Linked DNA regions of Homo sapiens. The protein of the gene in region 4 purifies or fractionates together with the protein of the main gene of each other region. This does not show direct contact. Each region holds a gene or a part of one and is shown on either strand. Other genes may lie near its edges. The genes, in order: IPP, COLGALT2, P4HA2 and COL16A1.

Evidence for each region.
Region 1: the proteins of COL16A1 (region 4) and IPP purify together in Homo sapiens (affinity purification with mass spectrometry; one large-scale study listed by BioGRID and IntAct). This does not show direct contact.
Region 2: the proteins of COL16A1 (region 4) and COLGALT2 purify together in Homo sapiens (affinity purification with mass spectrometry; one large-scale study listed by BioGRID and IntAct). This does not show direct contact.
Region 3: the proteins of COL16A1 (region 4) and P4HA2 purify together in Homo sapiens (co-immunoprecipitation; one large-scale study listed by IntAct). This does not show direct contact.

What each region holds. Positions count from the first base shown.
Region 1 is NC_000001.11:45,741,376-45,749,420, forward strand, and holds part of IPP (actin-binding protein IPP), read right to left. Parts: intron 5,087-8,045; 5' UTR 5,037-5,086; coding exon 4,745-5,036; intron 1-4,744. UniProt on the Homo sapiens protein: May play a role in organizing the actin cytoskeleton.
Region 2 is NC_000001.11:183,975,049-183,983,093, forward strand, and holds part of COLGALT2 (procollagen galactosyltransferase 2), read right to left. Parts: intron 3,473-8,045; coding exon 3,362-3,472; intron 167-3,361; coding exon 49-166; intron 1-48. UniProt on the Homo sapiens protein: Beta-galactosyltransferase that transfers beta-galactose to hydroxylysine residues of collagen.
Region 3 is NC_000005.10:132,188,341-132,196,385, forward strand, and holds the end of P4HA2 (prolyl 4-hydroxylase subunit alpha-2 isoform 2 precursor), read right to left. Parts: intron 7,141-8,045; coding exon 7,072-7,140; intron 6,683-7,071; coding exon 6,586-6,682; intron 4,741-6,585; coding exon 4,670-4,740; 3' UTR 1,807-4,669; downstream 1-1,806. UniProt on the Homo sapiens protein: Catalyzes the post-translational formation of 4-hydroxyproline in -Xaa-Pro-Gly- sequences in collagens and other proteins.
Region 4 is NC_000001.11:31,699,252-31,707,903, forward strand, and holds the start of COL16A1 (collagen alpha-1(XVI) chain precursor), read right to left. Parts: upstream 4,767-8,652; 5' UTR 4,586-4,766; intron 2,977-4,585; 5' UTR 2,943-2,976; coding exon 2,870-2,942; intron 865-2,869; coding exon 790-864; intron 680-789; coding exon 562-679; intron 1-561. UniProt on the Homo sapiens protein: Involved in mediating cell attachment and inducing integrin-mediated cellular reactions, such as cell spreading and alterations in cell morphology.

The DNA.
Region 1 (8,045 bases), about 14 Mb from region 4:
ACATTGGCTTACCATATTCAAAAAGTATTATACTTGATTTCACTGATAGTTTGATGCCTGCAGAGTAGACAGACACTAAAAAAGGCAATCAAGGATTTGAGTAAAGAGCACAAAATTTAAACGATAACGATACCTAACACATTTATGAAAAACTTACAATGAACCAGGTGCAGTATTAATTGCTTTATATGCTAATTTAACCCTTATTATAATCCCATGTGGTAGATATTATTATTTTTCTTATTTTCTTTTTTTTTTTTTTTTTTTTTTTGAGACGGAGTCCCGCTCTTTAGCCCAGGCCGGATTGCAGTGGCACAATCTTGGCTCACTGCAAGCTCCGCCTCCCAGGTTCACGCCATTCTCCTGCCTCAGCCTCCCGAGTAGCTGGGACTACAGGCGCCCGCCACTGCGCCCGGCTAATTTTTTGTATTTTTAGTAGAGACGGGGTTTCACCGTGTTAGCCAAGATGGTCTCGATCTCCTGACCTTGTGATCCGCCCGCCTCGGCCTCCCAAAGTGCTGGGATTACAGGCGTGAGCCACCGCGCCCAGCCTTATTTTCATATTAAAGAAACAGAATCAAAGTTTAAGTCACTTGTCCACAAGTTGCATGGTAAAGCAAGTTGCAAGGTAGGGGTTGACATCAAAGTCCATGCTTTTGCCATAAAAAAGAAGGAAATCATGTGCTTTACAGCAACACAGATGGAGCTGGAGGCCATGATTCTAAGCAAATTAACACAAGTACAGAAAACCAAATATCATATGTTCTCACTCATAAATGGGAGCTAAACATTGCATACACGTGGACACCAAGAAGACATGGATACACATTCGGGCCTACTTGAGAGTGGAGGGTAGGAGGAGGGTAAAGATTGAAAAACTACCTATCAGGTATTATACTGATTAACTGGGGGACAAAATTATCTACATACCAAGCCCCCAAGACACACAATTTACCCATGGAACAAACCCGCATATGTACCTCTTGAACCTAAAAGTTGGAAAGAAAAAAAACAAACAACAACAGCAACAACAACAAATAAAGTCTATGCTTTTAACATAAGGTTATATGCATGTAACAGACATTTACTGAGGCACTGGGGAGAGTAAGACAAGGTCTCTATCTTCAATTATGATAAAACGCCACATAATGTTCATTTTTTGTTTGTGCTTGTTTTGAGACAGTGTCTCATTCTGTTGTCCAGGCTGGAGTGCAGTGGCGCAATCTTGGCCCACTGCAACCTCTGCCTCCCACGCTCAGGTGAGCCTCCCACCTCAACCTCCCGAGTAGCTGGTACTACAGACACTCACCACCATGATCGGCTAATTTTCTGTGGTTTTTTTTTTAGAGACAGGGTTTTGCCGCATTGCCCAGGCTGATCTCAAACTCCTGGGCTCAAGCAATCCACCCACCTCAGCCTCCCAAAGTGCAGGGATTATACACAATGCTAGTTTTTAATATTAGGAATAACCAATAATCTATAACATAAGAGAAACTATTAAATACTTAACTACGTATACCACTTTCTTTTCCAAGGGCTTCACTTTCTTTTTTTTATTTTTTTATTTTTTTATTTTTTTCGAGACAGAGTCTCACTATGTCACCCAGGTTGGAGTATAGTGGTGCATCCTCGGCCCACTACAACCAACACCTCCTGGGTTCAAGTGATTTTCCTGCCTCAGCCTCCTAAGTAGCCAGGATTACAGATGCGCACCACCATAACCAGCTAATTTTTGTATTTTCAGTAGGGACGAGGTTTCACCATGTTGGTCAGGCTGGTCTCGAACTCCTGGCCTCAGGTGATCCACCCACCTCAGCCTCCCAAAGTGCTGGGATTACAGGCGTGAGCCACCACACCCATCTTTTTTTTTTTTTTTTTCTGAGACAGGCTCTTGCTCTGTTGCCCAGGCTAGAGTACAGTGGCATGGTCTCTGCTCACTGCAACCTCTGCCTCCCAGGTTCAAGCAATTCTCCTGGCTCAGCCTCCTGAGTAGCTGGGACTACAGGTGTGCGCCACTAAGCCCAGCAAGACTCCGCCTCAAAAAAAAAAAAATTAGCCAGGTGTGGTAGCATGTGCGCCTGTAGTCTCAGCTACTAGGGAGGCTGAGGTGGGAGGATTGCTTGAGCCTAGGAGTTTGAGACCAGTCTGGGCAACATAGCTAGACATAATCTCTACAAAAAAAATTTAAAAATTAGCCAGGCATGGTGGTGTGTGTTGTGGTCCTACAGGTACTCAGGAGGCTGAGGTGGGAGGATAGCTTGAGCCCTGGAGGTCAAGCTGCAATGATTTTGCCACTGCATTCCAGCGTGGGTGACAAAGCAAGACTCTGTCTCACAAAATAAAAAATAAAAGAGGCTGGGCACAGTGGCTCTCCCCTGTAATCCCAGAACTTTAGGAAGCTGAGGTGAGTGGATCACTTGAGGTCAGGAGTTTGAGACCAGCCGGGCCAACATGGTGAAAACCCGTCTCTACTAAAAAAAAAAATACAAAAATTAGCTGGGCATGTTAGTGCAAGCCTATAATCCCAGCTACTTGGGAGGCTGAAGCAGGAGAATCGCTTGAAACTGGGAGGCAGACGTTGCAGTGAGCCAAGATTGTGCCACTATACTCCAGCCTGGGCGACAAAGTGAAACCCCGTCACCAAAAAAAAAAAAAAGAGTAATATATATTCACTGTGGAAAAAGAACTTTAAGACAGAAAAACTAAAATGAAAAACATATTTTTCCATACACAGACATACATTGTATTAACACTGTAGTGTCTTTCTTCACATAGTTTTTCTCTCTCTCTTTTTGAGACAGTGTCTTGTTCTGTTGCCCAGGCTGGAGTGCAGTAGCATGATCATCACTCACTGAAGCCGCAGCATCCTGGGCTCAAGTGATCATCCCATCTCAGCCTTTCAAATCTTTTTTCTATGCATATTTATTGCATATCCTGTAAGACTATACATCGTTTTGGTGTGCCTTCTCTTTCTTTCCCCTTCCCCTACTCCCCTCTTCATCATTCCAGTTGTTTTATTTTATTCAGAGATGGGGTCTCACTCTGTCTCCCAGTCCAGGGTGCAGCAGCTTGATCATAGCTCACTGCAGCCTCAAACTCCTGGATCCTCCCACATCAGCCTCCCGTTAGCTGGGACTAAAGACACAAGCCACACACCCAGCTAATTAAAAAAAATTTTTTTTTGGCTAGGCGTAGTGGCTCACGCCTGCAATCCCAGTACTTTGGGAGGCCGAGGCAGGTGGATCACGAAGTCAAGAGATCGAGACCATCCTGGCCAACATGGTGAAACCCCGTCTATACTAAAAATATAAAAATTAGCTGGGCATGGTGGCACGTGCCTGTAGTCCCAGCTACTCGGGAGGCTGAGGCAGGAGAATCACTTGAACCTGGGAGGCGGAGGTTGCAGTGAGCCGAGACCACGCCACTACACTCCAGCCTGGTGACAGAGCGAGACTCTGTCTCAAAAAAAAAAAAAAATTTTTTTTTAGCCTGGGCAATGTAGTGAGACCCTGTCTCTACAAAAAATTTGTTTTACATTAGTCAGGCATGGTGGCACATACCTGTAGTCACAGCTATGCAGGGTGGTGAGATGGTAGCACTACTTGAGCCCAGGAGATTAAGGCTGCATTGAAGTGTGAGTGCACCACCACACTCCAGCCTAGACAACAGAGAGAGACCCTGTCTCAAACAAAATTTTTTTTGTTTTAGAAATGGGGTCTTGCTATGTTGTCCTGCATAGTCTTGAGCTCCTGGCCTCAAGCAATCCTCTCACATTGGCCTCCCGAAGTGCTGGGATTACAGGCATGAACCACTGTGCCCCTGTGTACATTCTCTAATGTTATTAAAACTCTTCAAAAACATTTAAGAGATAGTTTTGAGTAAAATAACATATGCTGATTATAAACACTTTGTGGAAAAAAATTACCTACAGATAAATGCTATCAAACATTCTGGCTGCTTTCTCATGTGTAAATACATATAAGTTTTTTTGGGTTGTGTTTCAAACAAAATAGGGGTTTATTTATATCCTGATTTTTAAAATTTTATATATTGTAAACATTCTTCCATAATAGTATACATATATTTTAAGATTTGTTAGATCTCATTTGTGAGATCTATACATGTATCATAATTTATTTAGCCATAAAACCTACTGAGACAAGATTTTATTCAATTATATACTACTATAAATAAAGTCACAGGCCAGGCGCAGTGGCTCACGCCTGTAATCCCAGCACTTTGGGAGGCCAAGGCGGGCGGATCATGAGGTCAGGAGATCGAGACAATCCTGGCTAACACAGTGAAATCCTGTCTCTACTAAAAATTAAAAAAAAAAAAAAATTAGCCAGGTGTGGTGGCATGCGCCTGTGTCCCAGCTACTCAGGAGGCTGAGGCAGGAGAATCGCTTGAACCTGGGAGGCAGAGGTTGCCATGAGCCAAGATCGCCCCACTGCACTCCAGCTTGGGCGACAGAGAGAGACTCCATCTCAAAAAAAGAATAAAATAAAATAATAATAATAATGTTACAATAAAATCCTGGTTTGTAAATATGTGCCTGCATCACTAATTAATTCCTTCAGATTCCTAGAAAAGGAGCACCGGGTCATAAGATATGAATTTTCAGTCACATAATAACATGTTGCTAAATTACCTTCTAGATAAGTTAGATCAATTTATATTTCCACATTAGTGCATGAGTGATTGAATCATTCTTCAGTCAAAGCAACAGACTCATGTAACATACCTGTGTAAATGAAATCTAGAAGTATCTGAAAGATTCCTGCTTCAATTCCTAGAATCGGTACAACATCTTTTGAGGACTCTTTCATTCCTCCAGTGAACAAAGCTGCAAAGTAAGGACTGCTGGCAGCCAAAACCAGCCGATGAGCTTTAAAACTTTCCTGTCCAACTTGCAGCTGCACATCACAGAAATGCTGTCCATTTCTCATCTTATTGATTTGGGCCAAGATGAGTTGGGCATGTTTATCTGATGAAAAAGGACTATCAGCAGCCTTGGGACAGTCCTCATTAGCCATGATGACGGTAGATTAATTAAAAGGACTGTTGCCCATAATCTGTTACTACCCTGAAAAACAAAATACAAAGAGATCAAGCAACAAAATTTTTTTAACATGCTTTCTATTCACACATAAGAAGCATTCTCTATACTTAAAATCTACTTAAGGACATAAAACAAATAAGGACTAAAGTGTGGTACTATTACTATTTCTAATATGGTTTCAGAGAATGAAATAAGTAGGGAAGCTAAAATAATTGGAGAATGCTTCACACAAGAAATGGGACCTGCACTAGAAACTGAAAGATAAACAGTTAATATTAAGGTATGAGGAGAGGACACTTCTTGATGGAGTAAAAAAAATAATAATAAAACACAAAGACAGAAAGTTAACAAAGCACACATCACAGAGCACACATCACAGACAACAGCAACTTTCGAAAAGCAGTTGTGATCAGTCTAACTGCTTAAAATCATTCAATGTGTACACTTCCCGTAGCACACAAAGCCCTTCGGGATTCTTGTTATAATTTAAGACTCTGTTCAAATATAACTTCCTCCAGGAACCTTTCCCCATTGCTCCTCTGGAATTGTGGAAATATGTTCCCAAACTCATCTGAGTTTGTTGCTCACCCTAAGCTTATTGGTTTTACATTCTATAGCACAGGTCTACCTTATCAAATACCCTACCACCCTACTCTTAGTGCGCGCATGCGCGCGCACACGAGCGCGCGCGCGCGCTTCAGAGCTCCTTGAAACACAGCCCTTTAAAGGCAGGTACTATCTTTCATAGCTTTAGCACCAGTATATAACATATGTTAGGTTTCCAATGTTTGTGAAATGAATGAGAACAAGGAGAAATAACAACAGCTTAGGTTGGGTTTTTTTTTTAACTTTTAACTTCTCCACATATTATGTCAATGGTAACTCTCACAATAATTAAGAGGTGAGAAGAAAAGATAATCTTATCTAAAATGAGAGAAAAGGAAACTGAAGCTCAAAGTTTCCCCAAGGATACAATGTTAGTATGACAGTCTCAGTATCTGAATCCAGGCCTTCTTACTCTAAATCCAGGACTGTTCCACCATATCACACTGCATAGGAATTATTAGGCCACCGGACACGTTCTAAATTACTTTTTAAATAAAGAAACTGCTGGGCACAGTGGCTCACGCCTGTAATCCCAGCACGTTGGGATGCTGAGGCGTGAGGATCACTTGAATCCAGGAGTTCGAGACCAACCTGACCAACATGACAAAACCCCGTCTCTTCTAAAAATATAAAAATTAGCCAGGCGTGGTGGATCAGGGCTATAATCCCAGCTACTTGGGAGGCTGAGGCACAAGAATCACCTGAGCCCAGGAGATGGAGGTTGCAGTGAGCTGAGATCACACCACTGCCCTCCGCTCTCCAGCCTGGGTAACAGAGCAAGACTCTGTCTCAAAAAAAAAAAAAAAAAAAAAAAAAAAAAAAAACCATGAGATCCTGTAATATAAGACATATGGAATAGCACAGGGAAATTTAAGATGACTAAGATTTTGTAATTTAGGTATCAATGACAATGGGTAATAAGACTTATAGTGTGGGCTGATGTTAGAAAAAAAATGGTTACGTTTATAGCATTTAAACTTATCAAAGTCAAAATAACAAGGCTGATTATCATCACTTTCTAGGAATTAACTTATTGAGAAATTTGATTGAGAGATTCGAAGGTAGCTGCTAAAACTTCATATCACCATCTACAGAATATCAACATATTACATATAACTAGCATATAATAGCAAGAAGTGTTTGAGGTGATGAATATGGTAATTACCCTGATTTGATAATTATACATTATATACATGTATCAAAATATCACACTGTACCTCATAAATGTAAATATAAAACAATTATTATGTGCCAATTTAAAAAATATCTATTTTGGGGGACAGGGTCTCACTCTGTCACCCAAATTGAAGTGAAAAATAAATTTTTTAAAGAGGGTGAAAGGGGCTGGGCACAGTGGCTCATACCTGTAAGCCCAGATTTTTAGGAGGCTGAGGCAGGCAGATCGCTTGAGTCCAGGAGTTTGAGACCAGTCTGGGCAACATGGCTAAACCCTGTCTCTACTAAAAATACAAAAAAATTAGCCAGGCATGATAGCACAGGCCTGTAGTCCCAGCTACTCAGGGGAGGCTGAGGTGGGAGGACCACCTGAGCCAGGGAAGTCCAGGCTGCAGTGAGCTGAGATGGTGCCACTGCACTCCAGCCTGGACAACAGAGCAAGACCGTGTCTCAACAACAACAACAACAAAAAGCAGGTGCGGTGACTCACGCCTTTAATCCCAGCACTTTGGAAGGCTGAGGCGGGTGGATCACCAGAGGTCAGGCGTTCAGGACCAGCCTGGCCAACATGGTGACCCCATCTCTACTAAAAAATACAAAAAATTACCCAGTCATGGTGGTGGGCGCCTGTAATCCCAGTGACGTGGGCGGCTGAGGCAGGAGAATCGCTTGAACCTGGGAGGCAGAGGTTGCAGTGAGTGGAGATGGAGCCACTGCATTCCAGCCTGGGCAACAGAGAGACTCCGTCTCAAAAAAAAAAAAGGAAAAAAAGGGGGTGGGGGCGGAGAAACCATGTATTTGGCCCTACACAGAAATGTGACCTGGAACTATTATCAACATGACATGACTGTCAGGCCTTTTCTGTTTTACATTTCTGTCAGCACATTTTGAACCCTAGTGGTTTAATTACAAGGTACCTCCTCTGTCCCCTACTTCAAGGCATCAAGCACAGCCACTGAGCTAAAATGCTGCCTCCTGCTACAAGAAAGAGTTGACTGAATATCCATTCGGGTGGCAGACAACAGAAATACTAGTCTGTTACCATGCTTCTCAGTAACTGCTGATACCATCCCACTGTCAGTGGAGTAGGAACGTCATCCCAAAAGGTGGCATGTGGAGTGACCATATTTCCAAAGGAAAAGAGCACAATTCTGTGACGTTGCATGCCTCACGTGCCCCAAACTTGAAAAGCAGATTGTTG
Region 2 (8,045 bases), about 150 Mb from region 4:
GATACACCTGAGATGACAGTTGTCAAGAAATCAAACATCTGTTTTTACCAGAATGTAGTCTGACCATTTTTCCCTCGCAGTTCGAAGGGCTGCCTGTCGTAGTTTCATCACATGGGCAAACCGGGAGGTTGGCCAGTGCTTTGGTCCAATTTCATCAGGGTAAGACCTAAAATAATAATAATAGCTCATCATTATTGAGTGCCTACATGTACCAGGCTCTGTCCTAAATGTTTATATGTATTCATTTAATCTTCTATCAATCCCAGGAAGTAGATACTATTATTATTGTTATCATCATCCCCATATTACAGATGAGGAAACCGGAGCAATGAGAAGTCAAGTAACTCACTGCTCATTGTATACAAGAATCTTTACATGAAATATTTCAGTGGGTTCTAATGAGAGCCCTTTGAGGTGAGTACTGCTATTCTCTGCATTTCACAGGTGAGGATATCAGGGTAGAGCAGTTAAGTCATTCGTCCAATGTTACACAATGGGGCACAATCAAGATTTGAATCCAAGCAAAAAGCTCATGTTCCTAGACAATTTTTATACATCCCGACATCGAATAGATTTGGAGAGTATGCAGTGTAAAACATGAGTTTCCCAGGAAAATCAAAGGTTTAATCTACTTGTTGGAGTCTCCACAAATGATTCCACACAGCCTAACACATTGATCTATCTTAGGTAAAGTGAGGTCGTGGGATCTCTATCAAGATTCACAAAACAGCCAGGCCAAGACTCCTTCATGGCCACATAGGCAAGTGGGTTGGAGCACGCTCCAAAACCCTTCTGAAGGCACCCAGCTGGCACGGACATTGATACTGTTGCAGTAACCCAAAACTGGCCACCACTTCAAGATCTCATAGCTGCACTGGCAGTACATTTGTTTTAGTGAGTGAAAAACTGCAAAAACAATGAGACTGTAACTAAACAAATAAGGTTAATAAAACTATGTACAGCACAGGAATTCTCTGGAATATCTTCCCCAGTTATTGTTTCAATGAAAATCAGTGGAATTCTCATTTTTCTAAATATATTCCCCCCAAAAATGCCTGTTCTAATATTTTTTCACACTGACCTTGGCATATAATATATTTAGTCAAAACCTGGCTGCAGAGAACATTACCAAGGTGCAAAGAAGGGACACAAAGTATTTCTGTGCCATTTTTGTTAGGCCAAACTCCATTATAAGGCACTCTAAAGGAGTGTTTACAATCTTTTACGGTGTTCAGACTTCACTGTTAAATTTTGCTTGATATACAGTCCATGGGCTTGGATTTGAGAAACACATATGTATATATTATATCATATTTATATATATTTCTTTATAATATAAATATTTATAATAATTCTTACATATAGAAAGACTAGAAGAACAGAAACTTGTTCTGGAATGGCATTTATTATTACTATAATACAAATTTGGCTTTCAATAAATGACTTCTCTGGGGAAGAAATTCAGGCAACTCCTTCATTCTATTTCTACAGTTCCTTAAAGTAAAACTGTAGTAGCTTTGGGAACATTTATAATAGTAAGTTTTAAATACATTTATTCTTGTTCTTATTTGTTCATCCAACCAGTATTAATTTAGTGCCTGCCAAGAACATGGCTCTGAGGGGAGAGGGGGAATATAAAGTGTTTATATATTCTAGCCCCTGCCAAAGAACTTACAACTTATTTAGAAAAAAAATACATTAATTGCATAGGGGGAAAATGTTGGTTGCGTATATCATTGTGCCAAAAAGGATGACATAGAATATAAGCAATACAATTGTTGAGACAAAGGTAGATATTTATAACTGAGTGATTAAGAATAGGTTTCTATAGTAGGCATGATTTAGGATAAGAATTAGTTATAAAGAAGGAAAGGGTCTTCCAGGACCTGCACAAGCAACAGTGTGGGGTTTGGAAATAAAAGAAACGTTCTGGATAAAGCACATTTTCTTTTGGTGCTAAATTCATGGAATTTTAAAAATATAAGTCTTAGGTGTTTGAACTTTGTTCAGGTCCTAAAGAGTAAGTGAAGTATTTTTAATAAAGAAATGAAACCATTTCATTTGTATTTGAGGTAGATTGATTTGACTGTATGGTATGTAGGATGACTTGGAGATAGAAGCAATTAATAAATTGCTATGGTGGCCGGGCACGGTGGCTCACACCTGTAATCTCAGCACTTTGGGAGGTCAAGGCGGGCAGATCACAGGGTCAGGAGATCGAGACCATCCTGGCTAACATAGTGAAATCCCCTCTCTACTCAAAATACAAAAAAATAGCTGGGTGTGGTGGCACACACCTGTAGTCCCAGCTACTCGGGAGGCTGAGGCAGGAGAATTGCTTGAACCCAGGAGGCGGAGGTTGCAGTGAGCCAAGATTGCACCACTGCACTCCAGCCTGGGTGACATAGCAAGACTCTGTCTCAAAAAAAAAAAAAAAGAAAGAAATTGTTATGGTAACCAGGCACAAAGGCTCACACCTGTAATCCCAGCACTTTGGAAGGCCAAGGTGGGAGGATCGCTTGAGGCCAGGAGTTCAAGACCAGCCTGGACAACATGGTGAGATCATGTCTCTACAAAAAATAAAAATAAAATTAGCCAGGCATAGTGGTGCATGGCTGTGGTCTTAGCTACTCAGGAGGTTGAGTGAGGAGTATTGCCTGAACCCAGGAGTACGAGGTTACAGTGGAGCTATGGTCATGCCACTGTACTCCAGCTGGGGTGACAGAGTGAGACCCTGTCTTGAAAGAAAGAAGGAAAGAGAGAAAGAGAGAGAGAGAGAGAGAGAGAAAGAAGAGAAGAGAAGCGAAGAAAAGAAAAGAAAGAAAAGAAGGAAAAGAAAGAAAGAAGGAATTTCTATGGTTAAGATAGGAAATTACCTAAATGAGCATCAGTAGGGGATCAATTAAATAATTATGGTAAATGCACATACAACAGTGATTATGCAGTAAAAAAAATGAAAATTAGCTCCTTAACTATTGCTATAGAATGATTATCAAGATAAAAGTTGAAAAAAGCAAGCTCTATGTAGAAAGTATACACATTTTCAATATGATCCTCCAAATATAAAAGTTTGTTTAAAATATGAATAAATAATATCAATATTTAAAAATATAAACTGTCATGGCAATTTATTTATGAAGTAATGAAAATCTGAACTTGGCTGGCAGCTGTGGGAGTAAACAGCAAGAGAGTACTGTGAAGATCTCTAAAAGGGAGAAATGGCAGATATTCAGAACTCACATAGCTACAGAAATGAAAGACAATGAAAAGTCACATGTACCTCCAAACCTGGAAGCCCTAAAGAGCTAGTTAAAGAGGAAGGGTAAATAATGAGTTTACAAATTTCGCACTTGCTACTCACTCTGGTTCATCCATAGGCCTCCACTCCACATAGTGATAGAGTCTCTGTACATTTTTCAACCACTCCCTGAATATTTCTGTTGTATTATCCACATTGTGATCAGTGGCTGCCCTGCATGAGAGAAAGCACAATATAGTTTAACTATGTCATCCAATGAAAGAGAGGGAAATCCAAAAGACCCCTGACTAACTGAAAGAAGAATGGCTACTCCTGGAAAAAAAATTGTATATATGAAAATAATTCCCTCATAGTCCAAACTAGACAATAAATTTCCAAAGTGAGAGACACTGCTTAAAATCATCTTTGTGTCATTAGATCCTAAAACAGGGCTCAGCCAATTGGAGAACGTGTAAATGGTTGCATTAATAAATAAACACATGAAAACACCAAGAGAGTGTAAGCATAAAATGAATTAACTGAGAGTCAATTAATGAATCTTCTTGGAAATTTTTCTATATGTTTTAACTTTCAGTTACCCAGGATGTAAACTCCACCTTTTAACTTCATTAACAATGACCCTCAATTTGAGCAATAATTCTGCTTCATCTTCATTTCAAGTCAATTTTCTGACCGCAGCAAAATATCTAGTCAATGCTGCTTTAATCATTGTGAAGCTACAATAATAATTCTCAATATAAAACTCAAAATTTAAGGTATGTTCAATTATCTATTTTGGATTAACTTTACCATCACGTTTACAAAATAGAGTATTTTCCAAAGCCTTTAAATAATGTACACAAAACTTGTGCCTGTTCTACCCTGAAAGTTTAACAAATGGATCCACTTGTAAAAGGGCCTAACTCATTTATTTAAAAAGTATTTTCAAATTGTATCACAAAGCAAAACCCAACACATGTAAAACAGTTATTCAGAACACCTATAAATGAAGAGATAATGAAATGAAAAACAGAAAAAGAGAAGAAAGCAGGAGTTGTAATCCTGACAACAAACGAGGTAGAATTCAGGCCAAAGAGTATTAAGATGACAAAGAAGGAGACTTTATAATACTAAAGGAGGCCATTCACATCAAAATATACAAAGTATGAATATCTATACATTTTCATATATTACAGGGGTTGGCAAACTTTCTTTCAAGCGATAGATAGTAAACATTTTAGGTTTACAGGCCATATACTATCTGCAGCTACTACTTAACTCTGCCATGGTAGTGATAAATCAACCATAAACAATATGTAAATGAATGAGCATTGCTGTGTTCCAACAAAACTTTATTTACAAAAACAGGCAGTCTGTAGGCTATAATTTGCTGACCCCTAATATAGTAGAAAGTATAGAAACTGTAAAGAAAAACAGAAATAACAATAATAAGAGATATTAACATACCACTTTCAGTTAAAGATGGTACAAATGGGGAAACAAGTAAGTATATATAGGATCTGTACAACATACTAATAGAGACTTCTCAAGTGCACATGGAACATCTGCTAGCACTGACCAACAATTACATCCCAAAGAAAGCCTCCATAAAATTGAAATTATATAAACAACATTCTCTGATCTAAATGACATATACGTAGAAGTTGATAATAAAATAAAATCCCCCAAATCCACTAAAAACTCTCTTATAAAGTTGTTTTTTAAAAAATAACAATTACTAGTGGAAAAATAAATACAAACCAATTTCAGAACTTCCAAAAATTAATAATGAAAATACTACATATCAGAATTTTGGGATACAATTAAAGCAGTGATTAGAGAAAAATTCAGTTTTATATGCTTAAATAAATAAAAATAAATGAGTTAAATTTCTACTCAAAAAGCTAGGAAAAAAGCAACAAAGCAAACATATATAAAGAAATTAATAAAGATAAGGGTAGAAAGTTGTGAGATATAAAACAGAAAAAGAGTAGAAACAAACTAAAATGCTACTTCTTTGAGAAAGATCAATAAAAGACAAGCTGTAGTTAACCTACCTAAGACAAACAAATATAAAACAATAAGAAATGGTAAGGATGGGAAACAAGAAGATTGATTTGAAAGAAAAATTTTAAAAATGTGTAAGCAACTACTTTGTACAACTCGATGATAAATTTGAAAACTAAATATAATAGAAGATTTTCCAGAAAAATGCATGTTAGCAAAATTAACTCCTGAAGTGATATAAAGCTTAAATGAATAATTTCCAAGAAGAGAGTAAACAGGAAAAAAACCCCAACTAGGCTCATGTGTTTTTACAAGGGAATTCTACCAAATCCTACAATAGATACTTCCAATGCTATACAGCTTGTTATCCAGAGTGCAGGAAAAAAATGAAAATTCTAAGTTCTTCTAATATTGCAAGTATAATATTGATGTCTAAACCTTATAAAGATTTACACACACACACACACAGGCACACAACTACAGACCAATATCCTTTAATGCACATGCTGCAAAAATCTTAAATGAAGTATTAGCAAACAGAGTCCAACATCTTATTAAGAAAATATAGCATGGTCTAAGAATTTTCAATATGAAGGAATTTCACTAACATAATTCACTATGTTTATGGACCTGAAGAAAAATCATGATTATCTCTGTAAATGTGTAAAAGGTCTTTAACAAAATTCCACACCTAATCCTGGTTTTTAATAACCACACAGAATACAATTCAAGCAGATACTAAAAAAATAAGCCACTACAATTAAAACTGTGTGGTAATGACACAGGGATAAATGACATAGGGAGCCCAGTGGCACAGAACAGTAAGTACAGAAATTTAGTATATGATAAGGGTGTCGTAATATTCCCATGGAACAAACCTGCACATATACTCCCTGTATCTAAAATGAAAGTTGAAATTTAAAAATAAATAAAGTTTCATCAAAAATATATATGATATAATACAGTTTTGAAAAATGATCAGAGGTACACATGAAATAATTTAGCTTCTATTGCATCATTACTTTCACTGCTATTTGTAGGATGATTTAAAATAAATTGAAAGTAAATATAAATAAAGGCCAAGTGCGGTGGCTCATGCCCGCAATTGCAGCACTTTGGGAGGCCAAGGTGAGCAGATCATTTGAGGTCAGGAGTTTGAGACCAGCCTGATCTACATGGTGAAACCCGTCCCTACTAAAAAAAAAAAAAAACATTAGCTGGGTATGGTGGCACGTGCCTGTTAGTCCCAGCTACTTGGGAGGCTGAGGCAGGAGAATCGCTTGAACCTGCAAGGTGGAGATTGCAGTCAGCCGAGATCGGGCCACTGCACTGCAGCCTGGGTGATAGAGCGAGATGCTCTCTCAATAAATATAATAAATAAATAAAACACAAAAAACTCCTTTTCATTAAACATGAAACATTATAGTTTTTAATTGGTTTTAAATTGCCACTAAATATATTCAAAAAATTTTTTTTATCTCCTAAAATAATAATCTTTAAGAGAGGGAATGTTCAGGAATGTTCAAGAGAGAAAAATACATTGTTAAGCAAAGCACAGTGGAACTCTATTTAGATAGGGAATACATTTCTGTAAAATACCAAGAAACTTAAAACTATGTAACTTAAGCCATAGGGTGTAGAAAAATGGGACATAGAGGTATGTAAGTAATATTTGAAAATATTATCTTGTAAAATAGATACTTAAATTAAAACTAGCCTACTTAAAAACATTATCCAATAACTACAGATGACACCAATGGCCAACTTGATCTACTTTCAAGTGTCTTCTTGAAATTAGATGAGAACCAACTCTTCTCTTCTCGGCAAGGTCTAGGAGGGAGAACGACCCACAGGCCCACCTGGACATTCCATGGCCTGGAGAGGGAGAGAGGTGATGTGTGAATCTGACAGTTTTGAGGGATACCAGGTGAGCATGTTAGGACCAAGATGGGGTAGGAGGAGCCCTTAGCAACTCACAGAGGTGGGAAAGTGGTCCAGAAAGCAACGTGGAAGAAGGCCACAGGCTCCACTGAGTTTGTGATTGTGCCAAAAAGTGCAACGTCAGCAAAAGTCACATCCTTTGTGACTCATGGCCACAAGCTACCAACGTCCAGGGTACGCCATGAAGAGCGCAATGAGAGTCTAACCACTGGTCTCGTGATAGGAAGCATGCAGAGAGCAATTCCTGAAACTCAGAATTTACCATAAAGCACCTTATTCTTCACTTAAAACATTATGAAGAGGAGTAAGTTAAAACTAAGCAAAACAAAAATTCCTTATCACAGTGTTAGCCAAAAGCTATGAGATTTCTACATTATTCTTAAATTATTTATAAACGGCATAAGAGAATTTGCCAGGTGCAGTGGCACACACCCTTAGTCCTAGCTACCTGACAGACTGAGGCAGGAGGATCACTTGAGCCCAGGAGTTCCAGGCTGCAGTGAGTACAACTATGCCTGTGAATAGTCACTGCACTCCAGCCTGGGCAACATAGTGAGACCCCATCTCTTAAAAAAAATAGTCTAGGTAATTTATACAGCATCTACTTCTTTCCTTGGTTGTTGTTTCTTCATTACACAGGACTTCTTAAATTCTCTTTGCCTTCTCTACATCAATGCATTTCCTAATCCTTTTGACAAAGTTGGTCTTATCGTACGAAATGTGTTTTCCTGGTGTACAGATTAAACAACTCCAAAACCTGCCTAAGCATCCACTCCTGATGAACATCCTTAGAAATTAGCTGCCTGGAGTATGCAGAGGTACAGATGTCTAATTAAAAACAGATGCACAGATTTCAAAT
Region 3 (8,045 bases), on a different chromosome or scaffold from region 4:
GTAGCCATGGGGTAAGAATGAGGATCCAGAGCAATGGGCAACTACTAAGAGGCAGAGAAACCAAAATAATTTTTGACAGTGTCAAGGGGCATTGAAAAACCAAAATTAGCCAGTAGTTTCTCAGAATATTGAATAAGAGGGAGGAGTGGAGAACTTGGCCACTCAGCCTGTTTACCCACTGAGGCATTTTCTGAATTCTGACGCTGTGCAGAATGCAAGGCTAAGAAGGTAAGCAAAAAATATCTGCTTAGATTCAAAAATTCAAATTCTTTGAAAAGGAGGATAAATTTTTTGGGCTGAGTCTGGTACTGAGAAGACAAGAATTAGAGTTGAGGAACTGCCAGTGGAAACAGATCCAGTGAACACACTAGGCTCTCAATTAGAAAATCCTGGAGGACTACATCCTATAAGGGGGGAAATAAGGGTAAACCAGAGATAGAGTCTTAAGAAAACTACCACCCAGTCTTAATTTTAAGTCAGCTCAGATCCTTACTGGATTAAGGTGATTGATCCCCACTCTGCATAGTAGAGGAAAGGGTGAGCCCTTTGTGCAGGAGGTTATCCATCCAGAGGCTCTACAATTTGTCATACACATTCAATCAAAAATTGCCAGGCATATCAACAGAGTGGACCAAATGACCAGAAACTAAGGAGGGAAAAAGACAATAGAAAGAGAGCCATAGAAAATCGAAATCATGGCGTTATCGGACAAAAAAATTCACATAACTGATTTATCAGTCCGAGAAAAACACAGAGAAAACAGAAGACAGATTCTCCAGAGAGTTAAAATCCATTAAAAGGACATGAATGGGCCAACCGTGGTGGCTCACGCCTGTAATCCCAACATTTTGGGAGGCTGAGGCAGGTGGATCACTTGAGGTCAGGAGTTTGCGACCAGCCTGGCCAACATGACAAAACCCCATCTCTACTAAAAATACAAAAATTAGCTGGGTGTGGTGGTGCGTGCCTCTAATCCCAACTACTTGGGAGGCTGAGGTGGGAAAATTGCTTTAATCTGGGAGACAGAGGGTGCAGTGAGCTGAGATCCCGCCACTGCACTCGAGCCTGGGTGACAGAGAAAGACTCCGTCTCAAGGAAAAAAAAAAAAAAAAAAGACATGAATGGATATTTTAGAACTGAGAAATATAAGAAAAATGAAATTAAGAACTCAGTAGATGGGTTTAGCAGCAAAAGTAATAAATGAATTGCAAGACAGATCAGTATAAAATATCTAGTCTGAAACACAAAGAAAAAAGCATGAGAGACACAAGAACTGGAGATATATAGAGCACTATGAAAAGTTCTAACATTCAGATTACTGAAGTCTCAGAGCAGATAGAGAAAAAATGGGACAGAAACAATAGTTGAAGATATAATGTCTGAGAAATTTCCAAAATTGATCAGACATCAACCCAGAAATTCAAGAAGCTAAATGCCAAGCAAGAAAAGAAAAAGAAACCCATACTAAGTACACCATAGTAAAACTACTGAAAACCAAAAAGAAAAAAATCTTTAAAGCAGCCAGGTGAAGGCAAAATCACCTTCAAAGGAACAACAAAGGACCAGATAGCGACTTTTCAACAGAAATGGTATAAGCCAGAAAACAAAGAATTACATCTTTAAAGTCCTTAAACAGACTCCTGTATGCACTTGATAGAAGACAGAATTAGTGAACTTTGTACAAAACAGCTATAAAGTTCTCCCCAAATATAGCATATATATAAAAATATGAAAGACAGATTAAGAGATAATATCATGATATGATCCAACTTACATTTAATCAGTTACAGAAGAAACAGACAATGCTGAAAGAAAAAATCATTTAATTTTCCACAATTGATTAAGGATACCATTGTACAAATTCAAGAATCCAAAAAAGTCTCAAACAGGAAAAGAAAAAACCTACAAACAAACCACCTAGTGTGCCAGTCACGTTTCTATTCTCAGCTGCAAGCTCATCCTTGTAGTCTCTACTGTTCTACTGTAGCTGCCACTCTGTAAACTACATTTCCCAGATTCCCTTATCAGCTGGCTTCCTGTTAGGGTCTACCAATGGAAGCCACTAGAGGGAGATTAGACGGCAGTAGATAGCAATTGCCCTAGACCCAGTGGTTTTTTGCATGAGACAATTTTATATATTAAGCCCCTGAGATTTAAGGATTATTACTACAGAAAAAGCCCATCCTATCCTAATAAAATATGCAAAAAATTAAAAGTAGAACTTTACACTTCATACCACGTATAAAGATAAACCTAAATGACAAAGACTATATAGCTTTCAGAAGAGAACACAGGAAACATCCTCATGATCTTGGGGTATAGAAGGATTTCTCAAATAAGACATAAAAAACATAAATCAAAAAGAAAAAGCTTGATAGATTTGACATAAAAATTAAAAGCTCCTGTTTATCAAAAGACAGAACTAAAATAGTGAAAAGACAAGCCACAGAAGATATTTGCAAAATATATAACAAAGAACTTGTGTACATATTTTAAAATTTGTATGAATAAGAACACTTGAAGAAACCTAATAACTAATAAACATGAAAAGTTGTTCAACATTATCAGTAATGTTCAAATAGACACTATACATGTACTGTCTTAGGTAGAGCTGCTATAATAAAATACCATACATTGAATTAAAAACATTTATTTCTCATGGTTATGGGAACTGGAAAGTCCGAGATCAAGATGCTAGTAGGTTTGTTTCTGGTAAGGGCCCCCTGGTTCATAGACAGGCATCTTCTTGCTGTGTGTTCGCATGGCAGAAAGAGGGCTGGGATCTCTTCATAAGGGCACTAATCCCACTCACGTGGGCTCCATGCTTACGACCTCCCAAGGGCTCCGCATCCTAATATCATCACATTGGGGGTTAAGATTTCAACATATGGGCCGGGCGCGGTGGCTCACGCCTGTAATCCCAGCACTTTGGGAGGCCGAGGCGGGCGGATCACGAGGTCAGGAGATCGAGACCATCCCGGCTAAAACGGTGAAACCCCGTCTCTACTAAAAATACAAAAAATTAGCCGGGCGTAGTGGCGGGCGCCTGTAGTCCCAGCTACTTGGGAGGCTGAGGCAGGAGAATGGCGTGAACCCGGGAGGCGGAGCTTGCAGTGAGCCGAGATCCCGCCACTGCACTCCAGCCTGGGCGACAGAGCGAGACTCCGTCTCAAAAAAAAAAAAAAAAAAAAAGATTTCAACATATGAATCTGGTGGGGGGACACAAACATTTAGTCCGTAACATGTACCAAGCTAGCTAAAATTCAAAAGTATGAAAATACTAAATACTGGAAAAGATTGGGGTAATAACTCTCATTTACTCCTGGTGAGAATGTGTATAACCACCTTGGAATACATTATTTAGTAAAGTTGGAACACCATTAAGACTCCACATTTCCACTCCTAGATATATATCCTACAGAAATATGTGTTTATATGTGCACCAGGAATCATGTATAAAAATGTTTATCACAGCATTATTCACAATATACAAAGACTGAAATCAATTCCAGTGTTTATCAGCAGCATGCTGCCTGTATTATGGTACAGTCCTACAATAAGCATTAACAAAACTGAATGTACTATAAAGATTAAAACAAATTACAGCTACACAAGCAACACGGATGAATCTTAAAACAATGTTGAACAAAAGAAGCCACATACCCAAAAATATTTACTCTCATTCTATTAGTAAAAGTTCAAAATCAGGGAAAACAGAATAACTACTTATTTAGGGATCTAATCATAGATGGTAAAACTATAAAGACAAGCAAAGGAATGAGTACCACACATCATGAGACAATGATTTATCTCCAAAGTGCTGGGGGCAGTGAAGGAGATGTGATCTAGGAGGGGTTCCCAAGGGGCTCCTGAGGTACTGACTTGAAAACGTTCTCTTTTCTAACTTGGTGTTGACACAGGTGCTCCTGCTCACCTTCATATTTTTTTAAGTATACATCTGTGTATCATGAACAATTCTTATCTCAAAATTTAAAAATGAAGTACACATTATAACAGCATTACAATCATGAACACATGTGCTATGTTCTCTGGGAGACAAAGAGAAACTATTTACCCTACTTTCCAGAAAAGGACACTGACACTTAGAGGGAACACAAGTGTTGAAACCAGGTCTGAAATCCAAGACCCAAGATGCTTTTTTGCTGCTAAAGCATTCATTATCCAGACTCTGCCTGCATGAAGGTGATGCATAGGAAATGATGAACCTGGTAAAAGCTTCCAGTCTTAAAAATACTCCAAGTAAGGCTCTTTAAGGCTTCTGGTAGGGACATTTTATTTTTTGGTAAAGCCACAATAGATAGAAATGCCATAAAAACAAACATGTAAACAAGGTATCAGAACTTTGGTTCACTGAAACATCTCACACCTAAAACACCTGAGGTACAAAGGCACCTTGCTAGGCGCTAGACAGCTAACTCTGCTGCAGCCACTTTGATCCTAGCCTTGGGGCCAGGGATGGCACAGGCTGAATGGAAGGGCTGGGACTTCAGTCACACAGGAGTCGCCCTAGTATGGTCTCCCTCTGCTCCAGACAAACATTCATTTCTCCAAAAATCAGCCTGATAGGAACATACAAAGGAACATACAAAGGTGTCTGTCACGTTGACATGGGCTGAAGGACCAGGAAGGGGAAGGACAGAAAAGGATGTCAGTCAACTTCTGTTGATCCACAAGGTCTCAAGAACTCCTGTCCTCGTTCATGGAACCACTTATTGGAGACTGTGAAAAGAAAGCAAGCATGTTACAATCCTATTGGTCAGTTTAGTAGCCTGAATGAATGACTCCTTCATGATGACCCCCTGCACTGTGCCCTGGAATCAGACACAAATAAGACAAGACATGATCTCAGGCCTCAATTTGCTGAAGAATTGGTAAGGAAGACACATGTAAACAGATAATTGTATGAAATTCTGCCAGTGGGACAAGATACATGTGTGCAGGTTGCCATGGGAATAGCACCCAAGGGCATCTAATCATGCCCTTTCATGCCCATGACCTTTGATGCCCTTTGGCTCTATTCCCATGGCAACCTGCACACATGTTTCTTGCTCTTAGAGGGAAGAGGAAATCCTAGGGCTAGAATATAAAGCTACATAGAAGTTATCCTGGGAAGAAGATGGGCATACCCAGATGGTTCTCTCACCAAGAGGGTCCCAGGAGTGACAACAGGATGAGAAAGTAATCAAGGCAGAAGCCACCCTGACGTGTGTTGGGGACTCAAGAGGCCTAATATTACTGGGAGGTGGCAGGTAGAAACTGAGAGGTAGGGTGTGAGGATGAGGAAGACTGTCAGCATTGCAGAGGGCTTGGACATTAACCTCAGGAGCCGTGGACCAGCAGATCCAGTCTGTATGCCATGGGCACAAGAGCAACAGAGCTGCTGCCAGCACTATCACCCCACGCCATATCTTCAAACACACAGGAACCATGATTCTGTTCCTCACAGACTCTCTCATAATGAATAAAAATTTTATTTCAATGCACTACTGAAGTCACAGAGCTTTTAAAATATAAAGTAATAACATGTACTTCATTGAAAAAAATAAAATTGTCGCAAGGCTTATAATGATAAATAGCACTCCTCCTAAGCCTCTCCTTCCCATCCCTAATCTCCACTCCCAGGGAACATTAAACTCCTCTAGCTGTTTCTTCTGATATTTAACCTCATTTTTCTAGATAAGATGCTTATAGTTCTATTCCTTGACTTTCAACTTTGGAATTCTTTTATTCTACCCCTAAAACACAAACTCATCCCCTCCCACCTTTCCAGTACAGGTAAATCATAAGTTTTAGTTAAAGTAATACTCAGTGTGTACATAATTATATCATGTGTTACACCTGAGCCATCTAGTAGATTATACTTACATTTCCTTTCTTGTACAACTTTTTTTCCCCTGAATTCAGCAACTGCCTTGTTTTCTTTTCCATTTGCTTAATTATCTGCAAACCTATCACTATTTATCTTCAAAACTCTCCAAGGGGGCTACACACTCATCTCCTTACAAACACTTCCTGTCATATCCTGGTTTGAGCCTCTCCGAGGCTCACCACAACTGCTCCCAGGATAAGGCTCAAGCTTGAGCCTCTGCAGTTTGGTCCCAGCCTCCAGCCTCATCTTCTGGCCCCTGTGCCACAGGCCTCCCTTTCTTCAAGTGACAAGGGAGCCAGCCCCCACACCCGTATGCTGGTTTTAGCCTGTGCCTCCATCCATATGGGCCTTGTTTGCCTGAGACACTCTTTCCCCTCACTGCTTCCAGCTCTCCACTCTGCTCCCTCAGAAGCCTTGCCAGAGGGTCCTGGACCTATGGTGCTTATGCAGCTATTCGTCCTCAGGCCTTCTTCAGCTTCCTGTGTATCTCTGAGTGTTTCCAACCAGCTGCCTTGGCATTTACCAGCTGCATGGACATTACATGGCTGGATGGTAATAACAGCAGAAAAAAACCTAAGAAGGGAGACAGTCTCAGCAAATTTGGCAGCAGTTGCCTCCCAGCTCAGAATCTAAGGCCAATAAGCAAAGCCCAAGCTGAGGCCACCAACACCAACACTACCCCTTAAGACACTCACCCCACTTGCAGCCCACAAGCACAGGGCAGGCAGCATGTCTTGTTCGGTAGTCACCTTCCCCGCTCCGCAAGAGGTTGTACCAGAACACAGCTGTACCCTGGGAAAGAGATGGCCTTTCAGAACACATTCTTAAGAGACTGTGCTCAGGGACCTGACTGCAAGCATCACAGAAGCTCTGCCCTGAGCAGAAACACCCTCATTTTCCCATGGACAGGGGATAGGGCTCTGGGACTCCAGCAACAGAGACATTTCCCAGAAAGCACCTACCTTTCTGAGGTAGAAGTCTGGGAACTCACCCGCCCCTGAAGGGACTTCCCTCCCTGTCCTTTCTTCACAGGGAGAAGCTGGGCTACCAGGTCAGACCCCAGGTGGGCTAAGGCACATCACAGTGACAATCAGGCAGGCCAGGTAATGGTACTGGGGGACATGGACAAAGTAAAGTCTGAGCCTTGCTTCAACCTCTGACCCACAAGAATCAGAACTTACCTTCTTAGGCCAAATTGCAGCCCCCAGATCAGGGAAGACGGTGGCACCACCAGCTTCTACATCACTCATCTGGAAATATAAGACATAGAGCTTGACCCTCCTACCCAAGGCTCTCAGAGCAATTGAGCCACAAAGGACATGACAAGGTATATAGATTGCCCTCCTCTCAGCATGAGTGACACTACTTGGTGTCTGCTCCATGGCCAGCCCTTTAGCCAAGAAAGGCTCTTCCCATGCCTACTTAACCAGTGTGATTCATTAGAACAGTCTCCATGTCATGAGTGTTCAAGAGTTGAGGCCCACAGGAGACCCACATCCGGGCTGTCCCTGGATGAAAATAATCTGAGTCTGTACTCAGAAAATGCCTGTTCTGACCCCACCCTTTGAATCCCCATCTAGCCTTGGCCTTGCCTAAGCCACTGTACTCTGCAAAGTGCCCTGACCAGGAGCTCTGTACTGTTTCCAACACCATGTGCAGTCCCCACTGCAGCTCTGTTTCTCTGGCTCTAGTAGTTTGCTGCTCTAGTCAGACCTTCACCTTCCCAGAGTAGCCACCCTTCCTGGGGCCAACTGAGTGGAAGGGTGGGGCACTGTGTCTCTAGAGGCCCTGCTTTCTCCTATGGTAAGGCCTTAAACTACATTGAACACAAGTTCCACACTAGCAAGGCTGTACTCATGCCCACAGAGCATGCCTTGACTCATGGCCAAAGCACTACTTCTTTCCCATCTGGCTCTCTTACTTTTTTTGTCCATAATTTAATAAAAATTGGAGGTAAAAAATATTTCCACAGGACACATACCAGACTCACTGAAGGGTACTTGACAGACATATGGTAAATGAATAAGACAAAAGCTCTGATGGCTTCTCACAGCCCTGTGGATCAAACTCAGATTCTTTTCTAGAACCCCAAGGCCCTGTCAGTCTCACTAGCCTCTCTCCAGACACACCAGCCTTTTTCTACCTTTCCAACATC
Region 4 (8,652 bases):
CTATCGCATTGCAATTTGAATAAGTGCTTCCAATGAACCCAGAATACCCTAGGTGAATAACTGGAGCAAGGGTGGAAGGAGAGATACTGAAAAAAAGATGGAAAGGGTTCAGCATGACCAGAGCAGCAAGAGATAAAAAAGAGCATTTTGAGAGCTGAGGTTGAAGAGGCAAGCAGGGGCCAGGCCAGGGCTTGTGGGAATTTGGACTTCACACACATGGGTGCACACACACGCATGTGCGCACACACACACATGCACACACGCACATGACTCTTGCCAGGTTCCCGCCCACATCCTGTGTTCTCACAGTGCCCACAGGATGCAGACCTGTTCCCACCCACTGCTGGCCAGAGACAGGGGAAAGACAGAAGGTAGGTCTGCCAGGTACCACCTCTCAGCCCACCCTGCAAGCCCAGGGGTGGAGACCAGGTTGACTCCTGGCAGGGGCTGGGATGCAATGACCCACAGACAGGCCCCTGGGCTTAAGCCCCACATCTGGAGTTGCTGAGGAGTGTGGCTGAGGTCAGTGTTGATTCTCAGTGGTCACATGGATGCATTTACCGCGTGGGCTGGGTCACGGGGGCCGCCCCCAGGCGCAGGATGAGAGGCCCCTTGGGGTTGCGGATCTTCTTGATGGCAGACGTCTTCATGAGGCTGAGTCGGTGGATGAGGTTGAAGCCTTTGGGGGAGACATCAGGTGAAGAGCTCAGCTGAGCAGGTGGAGAGGGGTACAGATCACTCCCAGAGGAAGGTTGCAGGGACGGCGCGATGAGATGGTTGGGTGCTCACCAGTCACGTTGGCTGGCAGGCTACTACTGTGTTCCAATTTGAGTCCTTCCTGCTGTGAAGGTGGGCATTGTGCACCTAGAAGAGAAGGGGCAGGGGGGCATTAGGTGCGCTCAGGCCAAGGTTGCTGCACGGCTGGACGCCTGGGGAACCTGGGAGGGAGCAAGTTTATAGTCCTCACTCTGGACCATCAGCTAGATCCTGCCTTCACCACCTGCCTTCTGACCCTGGCTCCCCAGGAAGCCTGGAGGCCCCCAACCCAGCATACAGTTTGGAAGACTGAGGTCCAGAGACTGAGGCCCAGGCCAAGGTCACTAAGTGAGCCAACAGCAGAGCAGGCCCAGAACTCCAGGAACCCAAATCTCCCAGCACTCCAAGTCAGGAGCTAGGCCAGCAAGGGAGAGAATACACGAAGCTCTAGGTGGCTCTCGAGCACAGATGGAGTGGGGAGCTGTGTATTTACACATGTGCCCCCTCCATGACATACACCCAGGTGGGGGGCAGAGGAGCTCTTCAGGGGTAAGGAAATGTCAGAATCATGCACATTGTGTGTTATGTACAATTATATGTACGTGTCTGTACATGTGGGAGTTGTAGGTGCCCATGCCACGAGGGATGACATGTGCAGCTGGCACACGTGTTCTCAGCAATAGGAACGTCCTACATCCAAATCAGACAAGCAGGCCAGACACAAGTAGGAGCCAACAGAATGAATATTTACCTGAATAACCACCTTGTGAAACAGCGAGAAGAGACTGAGGGTCTGAGGGGACCACAAGCTCAAGGGTACCACCAGGGCCTTGGAGCTCCAGGAAGGGCATATTAATGGGTTAGGGCTCCCAGAGAAGGAGATAGCTTAACTCAGGTTTCCAAAGCCCTGAAAGAACAGGTGGGCAGCCATGGGCCTCCCTCGCCCTGGGGCTGACTGAGCAGAAGTGTTGGGGGAGGTGCTACAACAGGAAAGACAGAGGCCAGAATCAAAAAGGCCTTCTCATCAATGCAGAGGGATAGGTGGGAGAAGACGGTGAAGACAGCTCCTAGAAGCTGGCCTTGCACTCTCTGGCTAGACTGGCTGGAAGAAGGAATCCTGGGGCCCTGGGGCCCGGTGCCAATGACCCCACTGCACTCTCCCTCCCCCAGGTCTGGTCAGAAAGACCATCACTGTCTTCAGCATCACAGCAGCAATGGGTGACTCACCCCTTGGCAATGGGCCCAGATTCCTTACAGATGTTGAAATTATCTGCCCCATCCCCCCCAGGGGACCCAGTGAGGGAGAGGAGAGCAAAGCTCACGCACACACAAGCAGAAACACATATGTGCACATACAAGGGGCAGGCGGCCACACTCACCCTGGGTCCACAATCCCTTTCACCTCAGCTTCTTGGTTTTTCTGCTTTTCCTAGCTGGGTTTGGGTCCTAGGAGTTCTGTTCCTGCTTGGCGAAGCAGCTGAGCTACTGAGCCCAGAGGGCACCCAGCAAGGCCAGGCAAGTTGCCCGGTCAACTTCCCCTGGCTTTGGGCCCTGGAAAGCTGCACCCTCTGTCTCATCCAGAGTCTGGGCCTCGGGGTGGGCCTTTTATTAGAGATTCAGGGCCAGCCGTGGAGGAGGAGAAGCACGTGAGCTAGAGGGATGGAGTCTCCACCATGAAAAGGATCAGCAGGACTTGGGGTTCTCTGGGGAGGCGGCGTCCTTCTGCAGGGAGAGCTCACTGCCTGTTCCTCCCCACCCCACTGGTCCTACCAGCAATGTGTCCACAGGATTGGCTTACGTATTGGGGTGGGAGGTTGTTCTCTTACACACAGAGACACAGGAATACATACGAATGCACAAAGCCAGTCTGAGAGACAAACACAGAGATGCTCAGAGACATAAACGTACGAAGACACAGGCACACACACTCTCCAGCTCACTGCACACAGGCTCAAGGGTGCCAACACCTCAGATCACCCTGAGCCCAGCCCCTAGACTCTGCTATAACTGCCCACACGACCACACATACATGGTCACATATGTGCAAGGACCCCAGCACCCCAGGATACCAGTTGCAGGCCTGTGATACTGTGACTCTCCTGTGTCATCTCACCTGTATTTGCCCCATGGCCGAAGGTAGCCCAAAGACCGAGCAGCCACAGGCCAGGAGCCCAGGATACCCACATCCCGGTCCAAAGAGGTCAGCTACAGCCACAGCACCTGAAAACCACAGAGACCGGGAAGGCGGATTTCTGAGTTCACACAGCACAACTCCACACGTGGGCAAGTCGTGGACAGCCTGTGGGGCCCAGGCACTGGTATTGGGGTGGCAGGAGGTCTGGCCAGGCATCAGTCTCTCTCAGAGGCCCAACCACAGCCCTTGGGCTAGGATTTGAGCAGAGGCGATATTCAAAATATTTAACCACCGGTATGGCACGGATACCAGCTTTCAGGCAAAGCAGAAAGCTGCCTACTGCACTGAAATAGTGTCCAGGCAGCATCTGGCTGTGCCAGTGGATACTTGCTGGATTGGGAGAGGTCTAGAAGGTCTTAGAAGGCCAGAGAAGTTGGAATAGTGATGAGGGCTTAAAGAAGAGGCTATTCTTCAAGACACGTGGAAGTATTTCAAGTCTAGCATCTTGTGCACTGTCCTGGTATATATACCAGCCTGATACCTTACTAGCGCACCCAGCTCAGCCCAGGAAGCCCTCCCAGGCACCCACAGGGTCAGGGGCTGGTGACTGGGCTGAGATTGTGGGCCACAGCCTTCCATAGGGCTGTGTGGGGGCCAAGGAAGCTTTCCCCATAGGTATAGTGGGCAGGAGAGCAGGTCTCTAGGGCTCAGGACCTCATTGCCAGCCACCCCCGCCCCCAGCTGATGGATGCTTGTCTTTTAGTTTTATTAAACCCTGATGGATGGGCCCAGATAAATCGATGCAGGCTCAGCAAGTGGCCAGCAGAGCCATACATCGTCTGGCCTCCCCCAGGACAGGCAGCTCACGTGCACAAACACAGAGCCATGCATGTGTCAGCACAGCACATGCAGATGCGCAGGTACATGTACATAAGGACACATATGTGGTACCAGTGTGCATACAAAGCTATCTGCACACAGGCATGCTCACGGAAACATATGCTCGCTGATATACCCAGACACACCAGCTTGCATATACCCACATGCGCACAGCCAGCCTATGACCACTCCTCCTGTAGGTCTTCCTGTTGGGAAGTTCTAATGCAAGTCTGACTGCATTCCTTCCAACTCTAATGAAATCCAATTTTCCTTCCCTCAATCATGGATAGGAAATGAAAACAGAAAGGACCCCTTACCCCAATATATTTGGAGATAGGACTCCAGCCCCCTTCTCCCTGGGACAGAACTGTGCCCCCAGCCTGCCTATTCATCCCCCATCCTAGTGATATACACATCCCAGCTCTCAAACCCTATCCTGGTCTTCCTCCTGCCAGCCAATAGAAGGGCTGCCAGCTGTGGCGCCATGTGGGTGCATGTGGAGGCGTGAGGATGGATGTGATCCTGTCCCCTTCCGGCTCCTAGTCTCTGGTCGCCACTCCTCAGGCTCCAGCCAGAGTGCAGGGCTGCAAGGACAGAGCCAGAGAAGCTTCCAAGGAGACGGCTCACCCCAACACAGAGGCATAGATTTGGGCGCAGGGAGTCAGAACCAGGATGGAGTTTAGAGCTCATCTCGCTCTAGAGAAGACGACCAAGGCCCAGAGAGGGAATGCCACTTTCCTCAGGTCACACAGCAAGTCTGGCAGAAAGGGCCTCTCAGCCCAGAGCCCTGAGGCCGCCCACTGTATCCCTACTTACCGGTGGCCGGGGATCCCCCCACCTCACTGAGCAGTCCAGGCAGCAGGCGGAGGAAGCAGAGCCCAGGTTCCTCAGGTCCGCTAGGGGTTCTCTATCTCTCCGTGACGGTCACGGGTCCCCAGCTTCCTGGCGCTCGAGCTCTCCCGGCTGTCTGCTGCCCGGCGCACGCCTGCCGGGGACTGCCGGCCACTCCGGGTGGGGGAAGAGAGGCGGTTCCAGGGGGCTGGGGGCCTGCCAGGGACACTAATGGAACACAGCTGGACCGGCCCGCCAGGGAGGAGGAGGAGGAGGGCCTAGAGGGGGCTCCAGCGGCACCAGAGGCGGCTAGACTGCGGGGTGCACAGCCCCGCCCCGGGTCTGGCCGAGCTCCCAGGCCCGCCCCTCCTGCCTCACCGCCAGGTGAGCGATCCTCGAGCTAGGCGGGACCCTACGTGCCCAGAGCTGCCCTGGAAGGGGGCTCCTGCGGGCCCTTTAAGAGTCAGGCCTGGAGTTTGAAGAGCTCCCCCTTTCCATGTCCCTGGCTGGGCCCCCAGAAGGCTGCGGGGTGGGGGGGCGGGGAGGGGACAGGGGTGGAGGGAGCAGGGTAGAGACCCTCCTCCCAAGTGCGTGGCACCCATGATGTGGCTGCCGCCCAAGCCTCGGTGGTCAGCTTTTTCCAATTCCTCTGCCTAACATTCCCAGTCAGTCTGTCCCTAGGTCTGTCTGTACTGGGAGGAGGAGGGTGGGAACCCCCTCCCTCCTCCGTGCTAAATTAACCCCCTCTGCTCTGGCCTGACTCCCAGAGAAGTGAGACTGAGGGAGTCCCCTTATTCCTCCTTACTCCATGAGGTTGGAAGGGCTCAAATCCCTGGCCCCTGCTCTGGCTTTGCGGTTCCAAATGTGCTGTGTAACCATACTCCGTTTTCTCATCTGGAAGATGGGATCGTGAGAGTATATGCCTCATAGACCTTTGCTGTAAGCAGGAAATGGGCCAAAGGCTGTAAGCGCTTAGCACACGGTCTGGCACATGAGAGGAGCTCAGTAAATATTTGCTGCTATTATCGTTATTACTGTGATCCCTGGCAGGGGACGGGACTGGATTTCAAGCCTTTACACCAGCACTGGGGAGGGACCTGCTTTATATTCACGGTCCAAGGACGCAAGAGGAATTGAGCTGGGCTGAAAGATTGGAGCTCTGAGGAGGAAGGAGCCGGTAATGTTCCGAGTTCTGCCCAGAGGCAGGGCCGTTGACCAAGGTGGAATCCCCACCAAGGGTCTCCTCCCGCTGTAGACCGAAAGCAAATTTATTGGCACCAAGGCTGAGGATCCACAAAGTAGGTTCAAGAGGCCATGAGATGCTGGGCTGAAGAGGGAGAAACTGAGCGTCCCCAGTTGAGGGGGGCTCTGGGGGCTCTGTGGAAGCAACGCGCCTAGCCCTGTGGCCTCGGCTAACCCGGGGTAGGGGGAGGTTGTAGGGGCAGGCCTGGGATTTCCCGCCTCCAGACCCAGAGGCGCTGAGTCAGCGGAAACCCCAACCACGCCACAGAGGCGCCCCACTGTGGTCCCAGTGAGGAGCTGGCCCCAGATGTGGCTGTGGCAGTGGTGGGGCCTGGGAAGTGCTGAGCTCAGCAGGCGGGAAGCGGAGGGGGTGGGGCCTTCTGAGCACTCTGGCCTGCGGGGTGGGTGGGCACAGGCCCCGCCTGCCCTACCAGAGGGTGCTGCCCCAGCAGTGGGCACTCGGGAGAGGTGGGAAGCGCATATAGGTCAGGCTCTGTGCTGAGAACTTCACATATGCTAACTCCTTCGATCTTTACAACAACGCCTTAAGGCAGAATTCCATTTTTATTCCCAAACCTGCAGCACAGGAAAAACACAACTTGCCCGGGATCCCACAGCTAGTCAGTGGTGGAGCAGAACTCATGTCCAGCCAGCCTAGACTCAGCACGTGCTCTTAACCACCATGCCATCCTGACAGCTCCCACCCGTGCCCCAGACAGGGCAGGTGGCTGGGCCAGGGATGGAGGAACCTGAGAAGGGAGAGCCAGATGCCTTCCCACAGCACCCCAAGGGTGCTCACAGGAACAGCCAAGCCTGGGACACACCTTACGCCTAGAAACACTATCATAGACAGTCTAGGAATGTGCCCATGCCCCTTCCTCCCTTCCACACATACGTGCACACATCCAGAAACACGCAGTCAGGTAAAGTTCTAGCACAGCACTTGAGTACGCAGACTCCATATGCATGTATAGGCACTCATGTTCACACAGACACACCCTGGCCCTAGAAACAGTTACACACAGATGTGTAGAGACTCAAGATACGCCTCCACATCAAAGATACACAGAAACACATGTAAGAGCCCAGATTACCCCACAGAAATATATCCCTGGACATATCCAAACACAGGTACATAATTCTCAGAATGCCTGCATACAGCACTGTATATACTCGAATGTGCACACACAGACACATGCCTGTACACATAGACATGTGTGCACATAAACATACATGTGACCACAGGCATAATTACTCAGATATGCAAGCAGAGAAGCCTGCAGACCTGCAGCACATACATGTGTGCACACAGACATAGATGGCCACACAGACTCGGCTCCCAGAGAAACAGCCACTGGGACATGCACACACTGACACATGTACACACATGCATACATGCAGCTGTGCTGACACTTTTACATGCAGTCAGTGCCAGAAAGCCCTGCACGCCAGCAACCCGGGTATCCCGTGAGGCTGGGCTCAGCGCCCTCACCCCAGATGGCATCACCACGAGGTAATCAATGCTGCTAATCACCACCAGCTGCCCTGGAGCCTGCATGCTGCTGCTGCATGGGGCTACCAAGGCCTTCTGGACCTGGGGTAGTATGCCCAGATGTTGGCAGTGCCCAAGGGCCCTCCGCCCCCCACTGGGGAATCCCTGTCTGGCAGGGGCAGCCCCTGGGGCTGGGGCAGGTTGAAGAGCCAACCCAGGGCCTGGTCCCAGGACAGGTCCGGGAGCCCCCACGCGTTCAAGCAGAGATGGTGTAAAGTTCTGAGGCTTGAACAGTGGACCAGAACCCCCACATGTACACGTGCACACCTGGGCCCTGGCATATGCGCATACGGGCTCACACGCAGACACATCACACATGATTGATTACTCTTCACAGATATGCCCTTCCTGACTTCCTCATCCCTTTAAATGCCACGATAATTCATTCTGATGCTCAGGTAAAAACCTGAAAACCTTGGCTCCTTTCTTTTCCCTACCACCCCCATCCAATCCTGTCAGTTCTACCCCCCAAATACAGCCCACGTCCATCCACTCCTCCCCACCTCCACAGCTGCAACCCTCACCCAGACCATGATCATCTTCTGCTGGGCTGTTGCAAGAGCCCCCAGCTGATCTGCCTGCTGCCTTGGGGCCCCACCACCCACTTACTTCCCACCTGGTGGCCAGTAAGACCTTTTCTTTTCTTTTCTTTTTTCTTTTCTTTCTTTCTTCCCACCTGGCAGCCAGTAATACCTTTTCTTTTCTTTTCTTTTCTTTTCTTTTCTTTTCTTTTCTTTTCTTTTCTTTCTTTCTTTCTTTCTCTCTTTTTCTTTCTTTCTTTTTTCACAGAGTTTCGCTCTTGTCACCCAGGCTGGAGTGCAATGGCGCAATCTTGGCTCACTGCAACCTCTGCCTCCTGGGTTCAAGCAATTCTCCTGTCAGCCTCCCAGGTAGCTGGGATTACAGGTCCCCACCACTATGCCCGGCTAATTTTTGTATTTTTTAGTAGAGACAGGGTTTCACCATGTTGGCCAGGCTGGTCCTGAACTCCTGACCTCAGGTAATCCACTCACCTTGGCCTCCCAAAGAGCTGGGATTACAGGCGTGAGCCACTATGCCTGGCCAGTAAGACCTTTTCAAACCCATATCAGCTGGCTTCACTCTGTTGCATCCGTCTTCCTAGAATAAAGCCCCAAATCTTTCCCTTGGCCTTGCCAAGTCCTTCATGATCTCGCCTCTGTCTTCCTGTCCAGCCACCTCACCGCAAAAGCTGTAGCCACCCACTCACTTCCTTTCTCAGCCCTGAATTCACTAAGTT